Regions from separate parts of the Homo sapiens genome. Here region 2 is linked to region 1. Evidence: fine-mapped expression QTL. A gene starts in region 1. The other region holds a variant in brackets. All regions are shown on one strand. Distances are from middle to middle.

The links. PIP is the estimated chance that this variant, and not a neighbour inherited with it, causes the effect. A credible set is the group of variants that fine-mapping cannot tell apart.
Region 2: its variant is the best candidate, but not a certain one, in a credible set for the expression of REXO5 in pancreas (GTEx, PIP 0.83).

Annotation. Positions count from the first base shown.
Region 1 is chr16:20,804,148-20,809,526 of GRCh38, forward strand. It overlaps REXO5 (RNA exonuclease 5), which reads left to right and starts at 2,380. Exons shown (of 20, transcript NM_030941.3): 1 at 2,380-2,558; 2 at 2,805-2,944. The coding sequence starts at 2,807. ERI2 (ERI1 exoribonuclease family member 2) reads right to left here and starts at 2,325. Exons shown (of 9, transcript NM_001142725.2): 1 at 2,261-2,325. The coding sequence starts at 2,283. RefSeq lists enhancers at 1,521-2,466, 2,215-2,324, 3,045-3,184.
Region 2 is chr16:20,630,332-20,635,710 of GRCh38, forward strand. The region is part of intron 10 of ACSM1 (acyl-CoA synthetase medium chain family member 1); the gene reads right to left. Among named protein-coding and RNA genes, the nearest start is that of ACSM2B, 57 kb to the left of the region's middle. The variant G/C (reference allele first, on the strand shown) is at 3,365.

The sequences.
Region 1 (5,379 bases):
CCAGCCAATTTACACTAATTTTATGTTACCCTTGTTTTACAGTAATACTGAGTAACTCATTTGAGTTCCTACAATCATTTGATTGTAGAGGTAAAAATGCACTGAAAATCTTATTTTTCCCCCTGCATTTTTTAAGCTCTTGCTATGTGTACAGTGCAGTTTTAAGAAGACAAGACAATGTAGGACATGGTTCAGTCTTCCAGTTTAAAAATCTGGGTAAAGAAACAAAAGATAGGGCCAGGTAAAGTGGCTCATGCCTGTAATCCCAGCACTTTGGGAGGCCAAGGCAGGTGGATTGCTTGAGCTCCGGAGTTCGAGACCAGCCTGAGCAACATGGTGAAACCCCGTCTCTACAAAAATTATAAAACCTAGCTGGGGCGTGATGGTGCATACCTGTAGTCCCAACTACTCAGGAGGCTAAGGTGGGAGGATTGCTTGAGCCCGGGAGGTGGAGACTGCAGTGAGCCGAGATCATGCCACTGCACTCCAGCATGGGCAACAGAGCGAGACCCTGTCTCAAAAAAATAAATAAATAAAATAAAATAAGAAAAAAAGAGAAGAGCTTACTGAGGTCTTAAGTGCAAGTAAAACAAACTACTTGGTATTAGCAGGTAGAGTTTTAACTAGGCAGACACCTCCTGTAGTTTTCTGTGTTTGCTAAGAGTGGGAAGTGCCAGGATTTGGGAATAATAAATATCATTTATTGACTGCTTACTACATAGCAGGTACTAAAATTAAACTAAGATGATGGCCTCCTTTAATCCTCAACAAGTGTAGTAGCTAGAAACTTTTCCTACCTATATTTTATGGATGAGAAAACTGATTCTTAATTTGCCAAAGAACATAGCTTTGGTATGTGAACCCAAGACTGTCCAATTCTGAAGCTCATGCTATTTGCTATTATATTACATCTTTCTAGTAATCAGAAATATGCACAGCGCATCCAGGAATCAGGGAGGACACAATAATTCATATTGTGAATTAAAAGGATCACTAGGCCAGGCACCGTGGCTCACACCTGTAACCCCAGCACTTTGGGAGGTTGAGGCGGGTGGATCACCTGAGGTCGGGAGTTCGAGAACAGTCTGACCAACATAGAGAAACCCCATTTCTACTAAAAATACAAAATTAGCTGGGTGTGGTGGTGCATGCCTGTAATCCCAGCTACTTGGGAGGCTGAGGCAGGAGAATGACTTGAACCCGGGAGGCAGAGGTTATGGTAAGCCGAGATCGCACCACTGCACTCTAGCCTAGGCAACAAAACTCCGTCTCAAAAAAAAAAAAAAAGATCACTAGAAAATGGGTTTGTAAAAAGTAGAGGTTCCTCTTCAAAGACTTCCTTCCCCGTCTAATTAGGAATAAATAGTAACTTCTCTTAGAGCAAAATTTATTCAAAGACCTGTGCTAACATTCTTAAATATCTGCTAGATATAATAAAGAAATCAATGTACTTTATGTTCTTAGCTCCCACAATTTAGCCTAAATATTTGCCCTGGCATGCTTATACTGGTCCAATCAAACATTAGGTCATAGCCTGTTCCTCTTCCTTACTTAAAAGTGTTTTTACCTTTCTCAGCATTCCACAAGTTACTTCCTTCTTCCTTTGTTCTCCTCTGCCTTTGCCTCTTTTAAAAAGTTCTATGTTGCTAGTCAGTCGGGACAAATACAGAATGTGAGGTCCCGTTCCAGCCAAAGGAAACCGGACACAGCAGTAGGGTGGACGCGCCACGTTATAAATGACCCTGTCTCCTTTGTTCAGTGTACTCTCCTGGCAAAACTGCTGGCGAGTGTACCCTTTCTGCAGGAAGTAAAAATGGCCTTACTAAATAAATTAAATTTAAGTTTAAGTTCTATTTCTTTACAGCACCGAGGAACGAGCATTTCGAACAGGTTGAACACCTTGACAGATTCAGTGTGTGGCCTGCCTGAGACCTCCAACCAGTCTGCAGGGCACTGTCACGTCCAGTCGTTTCCCAAGGCCTAAAATAGGCAGGCACTGGCTCAAGGCCACACAGTCAAGGCCCCAGGGTTCGTCCGCCTCGGGCTCCTGTCACCCTCGGGTAGAAGGTGGCCCAAGGCTGAAGACCGAGGTCCAGGGAGGCGCCTTTCCAACCGTGCCAGAGAGGGCAGGTCGCAGACGCCGGGGCTGCGGGGAATAGAGGCCCTCACCGCAGATGCCACCTGCCGTGCCCTGCTCTGCGGCCAACGCCAGCGCTGGACCCGGAGCTACCCGCCCCCGACCCGGAACTCCCTCGAGTACCGCGCGAGCCGCTTGGTCGCCATTCCCGACACTCCTTGCTTTTCCAAGTCCAGCTGCCGGAAGTCGCTCGACTTCTACTTCCGGTCCGTTCAAAAAGCCCGCGAGGCTGAGGGGCGGTTGTTGTTGGCAGCTGTGGCTAAGGAGGGGAGAACCTCTGCTCCCCGCCCGTCTTCTCTTCTGCGTTTCCCGGGCTAGGGGGCGTGGGGAGTGGTTTTAGGCGGCGAAGCCGCTCGGCAGCACCTTCCTTCTTTGCCAGGCAGACGCCCGTTGTAGCCGTTGGGGAACCGTTGAGAATCCGGTAACCGATGCGGACGGTAAAGCCGTTTGGGTTAGAGCGGCGCGGGTGTCCAGTCCGCGGAACGGGGAGATCGTTGGCACCTTCGCTTTTTTAGGGGAACGGGGATAGTTCGGTAAACTGAATTGAGAAGCGGATCCGAGGGAGGTTGAAAGCTGTCAAGCCCGTGTAGCTCTCCCGCTAGGAGGCGGCACGCGGGGGAATAGGGGCGCTGGAGTTTCCCCAGCTCTACCTCATCTTTCTCCACAGCCATGGAGCCAGAGAGGGAAGGGACCGAGAGACACCCCAGGAAGGTCAGGGAAAGCAGGCAGGCCCCAAATAAGCTGGTCGGGGCAGCTGAGGCGATGAAAGCCGGTTGGGATCTCGAGGAGAGTCAGCCCGAGGCCAAGGTGAGCAACGGGGATCCCGAGCAGGCGGCCCTAGGCGGTTTGGAGCTCCCGGACCCTCGCCCAACCGCCGTCGGGGGCACTGGATTCGGGCGGGCTCTCCGCCCTGGCCTCTCCGAACCTGATCCCTGATCATTAAAATGGGAATGAGTGTAATACCACCTTCCTGCAACAAGGCTGTCATTGGCTGTCACTGGGATAGTGAGTCGGCCGAGTGCGGTGGCTCATGCCTGTAATTCCAGCACTTTGGGAGGCCGAGGCGGGCGGATCACGAGGTCAGGAGTTCGAGACCAGCCTTGTCAACATGGAGAAATCCCCGTCTCTACCAAAAACACACACACAAAATTAGCCAGGCGTGGTAGTGGGTGACTGTAATCCCACCTACTTGGGAGGCTGAGGCAGGAGAATCGCTAGAACCCAGGAACCAGAGGTTGCAATGAGCCAAGACCACGCCATTACACTCCACCCTGGACAACAAGAAAGAAATCACGTCTCAGAAAAAAAAAAAAAAAAAAAAAAACTGGGATGGTGGGCCGGGTGCAGTGGCTCACGCCTGTAATCCCAGCAGTTTGGGAGGCCAAGGCGGGAGCATCATTTGAGGCCAGGAATTCAAGACCAGCCTGGGCAATATAGCAAGGACCCCATCTCTTAAAAAAAAAAAACAAAAAACAAAACAAAAAAAAAACTGCCTGTACATAATAGGAATGTTCATCGATATCCTGGGGCACAAAAATACAATTCCTTGCCCTCGTGCAGTTTACATTCCAGTAGGGCGGGGGTCCCCAACCCCCTGTGCACAGACTAGTACCTGCCTGTCCATGGGGTCCCCAACCCACTGTCCACAGCTGGCCTGTTAGGAACCGGGCCACAAAGCAGCAGGAGGTGAGCGGTGGCCGATAGAACGTTACCCCCTGAGCTCCACCTAGGCATTAGATTCTCATAGGAATGTGCCAAACCTATTGTGAGCCCTATTGTGAACTTTGCATACGAGGGTCCTAGGTGGCATGCTGCTTATGAGACTCTAATGATAAATGTAATGCACTTGAATCACCCCGAAACCATCCCCCCAGCCCTTCTCCCAGTCAGTGGAAAGATTATCTAACACGAAACCGGTCCCTGGTGCCAACGGTTGGGGACCGCTGCAATAGGGGAATAAAAAGGCTGATTATCCCTATCATCCTTACCATTTACTGAGAACTAAATATACTTCATTCATCCCTTCAGTCGTTCATTGGGCTTTTTTGTTTGTTTTTGTGTTTGAGACAGGGTCTCTGCTCTGCTGGACTCAGGCTGGACTACAGTGGTGTGACAAGGATCCTCCTGTCTCTGCCTCTTACAGGCATGAGCCACTGCACCCAGCTATTCATTGGTTTTTATTGTCTGCCATGTGCTGGGGCACTGACCTAGGTGCTTGGGGTACATCAGTGAATCAAGTTCACTGCCCTAGTAGGTCTTATATTCTAGTGGGCAGAGACAAATGATAAAAATAAGTTATAATATGTGAGAGAGGGATTAGGGATGTGATTTTTTTTTTTTTTTTTTTTTTTGAGGTGGAGTCTCCCTCTGTTGCCCAGGCTGGATTTGGCTCACTGCAACTTTTGCCTCCCAGGTTGAAGTGATCCTCCCACCTCAGTTCCACCAATTAGATGGGACTACAGATGTGTGCCACTGTGCCAGCTAATTTTTCTTTTTTTTGTAGAGACGGGGTTTTGCCATGTTGCCCAGGCTGGTCTTGAACTCCTGGACTTAAGCGATCTGTCCACCTTGGCCTCTGCAAGTTCTGGGATTACAGGCATGAGCCACTGCTTTTTTTTGTTTTTTTTTCGTTTGTTTTTTTTTAAAGAGAGACAGGGTCTCCAACTCCTGGGATCAGGAGATTCACCTGCCTCAGCCTCCCATAGTGCTGGGGATTACATGTGTGAGCCACTGCACCCAGCTGAAAATTTTTTTTATTAAAGTGGGATTCCAGTTTTTTTGCCTATCAAATTTGCAAAAAAATGTTTAATGTTTATGTGGTTAGTGTAAGGAGATTGACAATCACATATTTTGTTATGTTGAAACAATCTCAAACTTTTAGAAAAGTTGTAAGAATAGTATCAAAACCTCCCCTCAACCAACATTTGAAAGTAGTTGCTGACACAATGGTCTTTTTCTACCCACCCTCAAGATATTTTATTATATATTCTCTATAAACCTACATAATCACAATGCAACCATCAAAATTGGAAATTACCATGGATATATCATGACCATCTACTCCTCAGATGCCATCCAAATTTTCTGTAGTTGTTTGAATAACGCTTTTTAGCAATAAGATCCAGTCTAGAATTGTGTTAAATTTAATTGTCATGTCTCCATCAAACAGTTCCTTAGTCTTCCCTTGATATTCATGACTTTACTGCATTTGAATAATCCTGGGCCAATTATTTTGTTGAATG
Region 2 (5,379 bases), 170 kb before region 1:
CTGCCTCGGCCTCCCAAACTGCTGGGATTACAGGCGTGAGCCACGATGCCCGGTCAAAATAAAGTTTAAGTTAAAAATAATTGCAAAAGATAAAAAATGATATTGTCTATTAATAGAAGGGTCAATTCACCAAGAAGATATAATAATCATAAACATATAAGCAATAAACCTCAGAGCCCCAAAATACATGAAGCAAACATTGTCAGAATTTAAGGAAGAACTGTACAGTTCTACAGCAATAGTTGGAGAATTTAATATACCACTTTCAATAACGAGTAGAAAAACCAGAGAGAAGATCAATAAGAAAATGGAGGACTCGAACACCACCACAAATTAACTGGATCTAGCAGACATATACAGGAAACTCCATCCAACGGCAGAAGAACACACATTTTTCTCAAGTGCACATGGAACATTCTCAAGGATGGACCATATATTAGGCCAGAAGAGAAGTATTAATTAACTTTAAAAGACAGAAATTATACAAAGCATCTTATCAAGTCACATGAAAGGAATTAACAGAAGGAAAACTTTTAAAAAATCACAAATTTTCCCAATCTTTGCAAAATTAAACAACATACTCTTAACTAACCAATGAATCAAAGAAGAAGTCACGAGGAAATTTAGAAATTATCTTGAGACAAATGAAATAAAAAACACAGCATATTAAAACTTATAGATTGCAGCAAACACAGTGCTAAAAAGGTAATTTACACACATACTGTCTTAGCCCATTCAGGCTGCTGTAACAAAATGCCATAAACTGGGTGGGTTATAAACAATAGATATTATCTCTTAGAGCTCTGGAGACTGGGAATGCAAGATCAAGTCACCAACAAATTTGGTGTCTGGTGAGGCTTCATAGATGGCTGTCTTCTTGATGGGGCCTCACATGGAGAATGGGACTCTTCTGGAGAACCCTACTGGAGTTGCTTTTTAAAGGGCACTAATATCACTAATCATCAAGGAAATGCAAATTAAAACCACAATGAGATATTACCTTACTCCTGCAAAAATTGTCATTGTTAAAAAAATCAGAAAACAATAGATTTTGGCATGGTTGTGGGAACACTTTTACACTGCTGGTGGGAATGTAAATTAGTACAGCTGCTATGGAAAACAGTATAGAGATTCCTTCAAGAACTAAAAGTAGAACTACCATTCGATCCAGCAATCCCACTACTGCGTATCTACCCAAATAAAAAGAAGTCATTATATGAAAAAGACATATGCACATGCGTGTTTATAGCACAATTTGCAATTGCAAAGATATGGAACCAACCAAAGTGCCCATCAACCAATGAGTGGATACAGAAAATGTGGTATATATACACCATGGGATGCTATTAAGCCATAAAAAGCTGTGAAATCATGTCTTTCGTGGCAACTTGGAAGGAGCTGGAGGCCATTATTCTAAGTGAAGTAACTCAGAAATGGAAAACCAAATAGCGTATGTTCTCACTTCTAAGTGGGAGCTAAGCTATGAAGGCACAAAGGCAAAGAATGATATAATGGACTTTGGGGACTAGAGGGCAAAGTTGGCAGGGGGTAAGGGTTAAAAGACCACACTGTTCAGGTGATGGATGCACTAAAATTTCAGAAATCACCACTAAAGAACTTATCCATGTAGCCAACAACCACCTGTACCCCCAAAACTACTAAAATAAAAAAATTAAAAGGGCACTAACACCATTCATGAGGACCCCATGCTCACGATATAATCATCTCCAAATATTGCATTGGGGGTTAGGATTTCAACATATGAATCTGGGGGACACACAAACATTCAGTCTTTAGCACATACGTTAAAAAAGATCTCAAGCCGAAAACCTTACACTTTAGGGAACCAGAATAAGAAGAGCAAACTAAACCCAAGCATAGCAGAAGCAGGAAATAAAGATTAGAGTTCATATAAATAAAATGGCAAATAGAAAAACAACAAAGAAAACTTAATCAAAAGTTATTTCTTTTGAAGAGATGACAAGTCTTCAGCTAGATTGATTAATAAAAAAGTGAAAATTTAAATTACTAACATTTTACAGAAATGAAAAGAATTATAAGAGAATACTATGAACAATTGTATGCTAAAAGGTTTGATTACCTAGATAAAATGGAAAAACTACTGGAAACACACAATCTACCAAAAACAGGAGTCACAAAGAAATAGAACTCTGAATAGATCTGTAACTCATAAGGAGGTAAAATTAGTTATCAACACCTTCCAAAAGAGAAAAGGCCTAGGCCAGATGGCTTCACTGATGAGTTCTGACAAATATTTAAAGAAGAATTAAGACCAATCCTTTTCCAACTCTTTTTACAAAATTAAAGAAAAGGAAAAATTTTATAAGTCAATCTATGAGGCCAGCATTACCCTGACACCAAAGCCAGACAAACACTGCAAGAGAAGAAAACTACAGACCAATAACTCTTATGAATATTGATGCAAAAATCTCAGCAAAACACTAGCAAACCAAATCCAGAAACACTTTAAAAGAATTATACATCATGACCAAGTGGGATTTATTCCTGTTTCAACATACAAAAGTCAACAAATATAATAAACCACATTAATAGGATGAAAAGAAAATAACCACAAGGTTTTCTCTCAGTTGAGGCAGAGAAAGCACTTGACAAAACTCAATACCCTTTCATGGTAAAAACACTAAATAAACTAGGAAACTTCCTCAACATGATGAGGCCACATATAAAAAACCAACAGCTAATATTATTCTCAATGGTGAAAGTTGGAAAGATTTTCTCCTAAGACCAAAAACACAAGGATGCCTGCTTTCACCACTTCTATTCTACATAGTCCCGGAAGCTCTAGCCAAATCAATCAGGCAAGAAAGAAAAATAAGAGGCATCTGAATTGGAAAGATGAAGTAAAATTATCTCTGCATGCAGATGGCATGACCATATATAGAAAACCCGAAGAATTTTACACACTCAAAAAAAATGTTAAAGCTAATACATAAATTCAGTAAACTTGTAAAAAACAGAATCCATACACACACAAAAACTCAATTGCACTTCTGTGCACTAAAAATTAAAAATCCAAAGAGGAAATTAAGAAAGCAATTCTATTTACAATAGCATCAAAAAGAATACAAGACAGTAGTACTCATAATAAATTTAATCAGGGAGGCAAAAGACTTGTACACTGAAAACTACAAAACGTTACTACAGAAATTAAAGAAGAGATAAGTAAATGAAAAGACATATGATACTCATTTATTGGAGACTTAATATTAAGATGACAATACTGCCCAAAGCTATCTACAGAGGCAACACAATTCCTGTCAAAATCCCAATGGTTTTTTGTTGTTGTTGCAGAACTAGAAATACCTATCCTAAAATGCATATA[G/C]AATCTCAAAGGACCCCAAACTGCCAAAACAATCTTTAAAAAGGTGAATAAAGGCCAGGCGCGGTAGCTCACATCCATAATCCCAGCACTTTGGGAAGCCTAAGGCAGGTGGATCGCTGGAGGCCAGGAGTTCAAAACAAACCTGGGCAATATGGAGAAACCCTGTCTCTACTAAAAATACAAAAATTAGCCAGTCTTGCAATCTGGCCTCAAAAATAAAAGGAAATAAAAATTTTTGAAAAAGGAGAATAAAGTTGGAAAACTCACACTTCCTGACCTCAAAACTTACTACAAAACTACAGTAATAGAAACAGTGTGGTATTGGCATAAAGACAGACAGATCATTGCAATAGAATAGAGAGTCCTGGAAGAAACTCTCCCATATATTGTCAATTGATTTAAGTATAGGTGCCAAAACCATTCCATGGAGAAAGGTCAGTCGTCAACAAATAGTGCTGGGAAACTTCAATGCCCAATTGCAAAATAATGAAGTTACCTTACAACACATACAAAAGTTAACTCAAAATGGATCAAAAATATTCTGGTGGGTATATAAAATGGTGCAGCCATTGTGAAAGTGGTTTGGTAATTTATTTCAAAAAGTTCAACATAGAATTACCATGGAACCCAGCAATTCCACATCTAGGTCTATACTCCCAAGAAATGGAAGCAGGAACTTGAACAGATACTTAAACAACAGTGGTCATAGAAGCAACATTCTCAATAAGCAAAATGTGGAAATAACCAAAATGTCCATTAAGAGACAACTGAGTACACAAAATGTGTTGTATACATACAGTGGAATTTTATTCAGACTTACAGAGGAATGACATTTTGTTACATGCTAAGACATAGATGAACCTTGAAAACGTTATGCTAAGTGAAATAAGCCAAACGCAAAAGGGCAAATGTTGTATATTTTCACTTATATGAGGAACCTAAAATAGGCAAATTCATAGATTTTAAAAAGCAGATTAGAGATTATCATGTGCTGGAGACTGGGGCAGTGAGATGTTGCTTATTAGTAGAATTTCTGTTTGGGATGGTAAACATTTTCTGAAGATGGGTAATCGTGATGGCTGTACAACATTGTTACTTTATTTGATACTACTGAATTGTACACTCAAAAATGGTGAAAAGAGTAATTTTATGTTACATTTTATATAAATAAAATATAAAGTAAAAAATAAAGTATCTGTTCAAGTTCCTGCTGCCACTTCTTGGTAGTAAGTAGCCTTAGAAGTAGAATTGCTGGGTCTCATGGTAATTCTGTAATTCTTTTACATAAATAAGGAGGGAAAAAAACCCAAAGAAGTCCCAATGGAGGAATACTGACATTTCATGGATACGTAGGTGTGGGTATATGTTAGGAGTTCTTTGGAAAATAAAATATGTCATGCTCAATCAAAAAAAAATTAGCTGGGTGCAATAGCTCACATCTGTAATCACAGCACTTTGGGAGGCTGAGGCAGGGGGGTTACTTGTGCCCAGGAGTTTGAAAGTAGTCTGGGCAACATAGTGAGACCTTATCTCTACAAAAAATCAAAAAATTAGCTGGGCATGGTGGTACCTGCCCGTGGTCCCAGCTCCTTGGGAGGCTGAGTTGGGAATATCACTTGAGCTCAGGAGGTCCAGGATACAGTGAACTTTAATCACGCTCCTGCACTCCAGCTCGGTGACAGAGCAAGACCTTGTTTTTTTCTTTAAATATATTTCTTTGGATTATCCCCATTTCAGCTCAATCAGAATCTCTGGTTGCATCCAAGTACTACTATTTTAAAAAATCTCCTGAAATGATTGTAATATGCAGATATATATCTGTGGTCCTCAAAGATGCCTGGACATTATATAAAATATATGTGTTACCCCATGTTTAATTTTTCTTTTTCTTTCTTTCTTTCTTTCTTTCTTTCTTTCTTTCTTTCTTTCTTTCTTTCTTTCTTTCTTTCTTTCTTTCATTTTGAGATGGTGTCTAGCTCTGTCACACAGGCTGGAGTGCAGTGGTGCGATCTTGG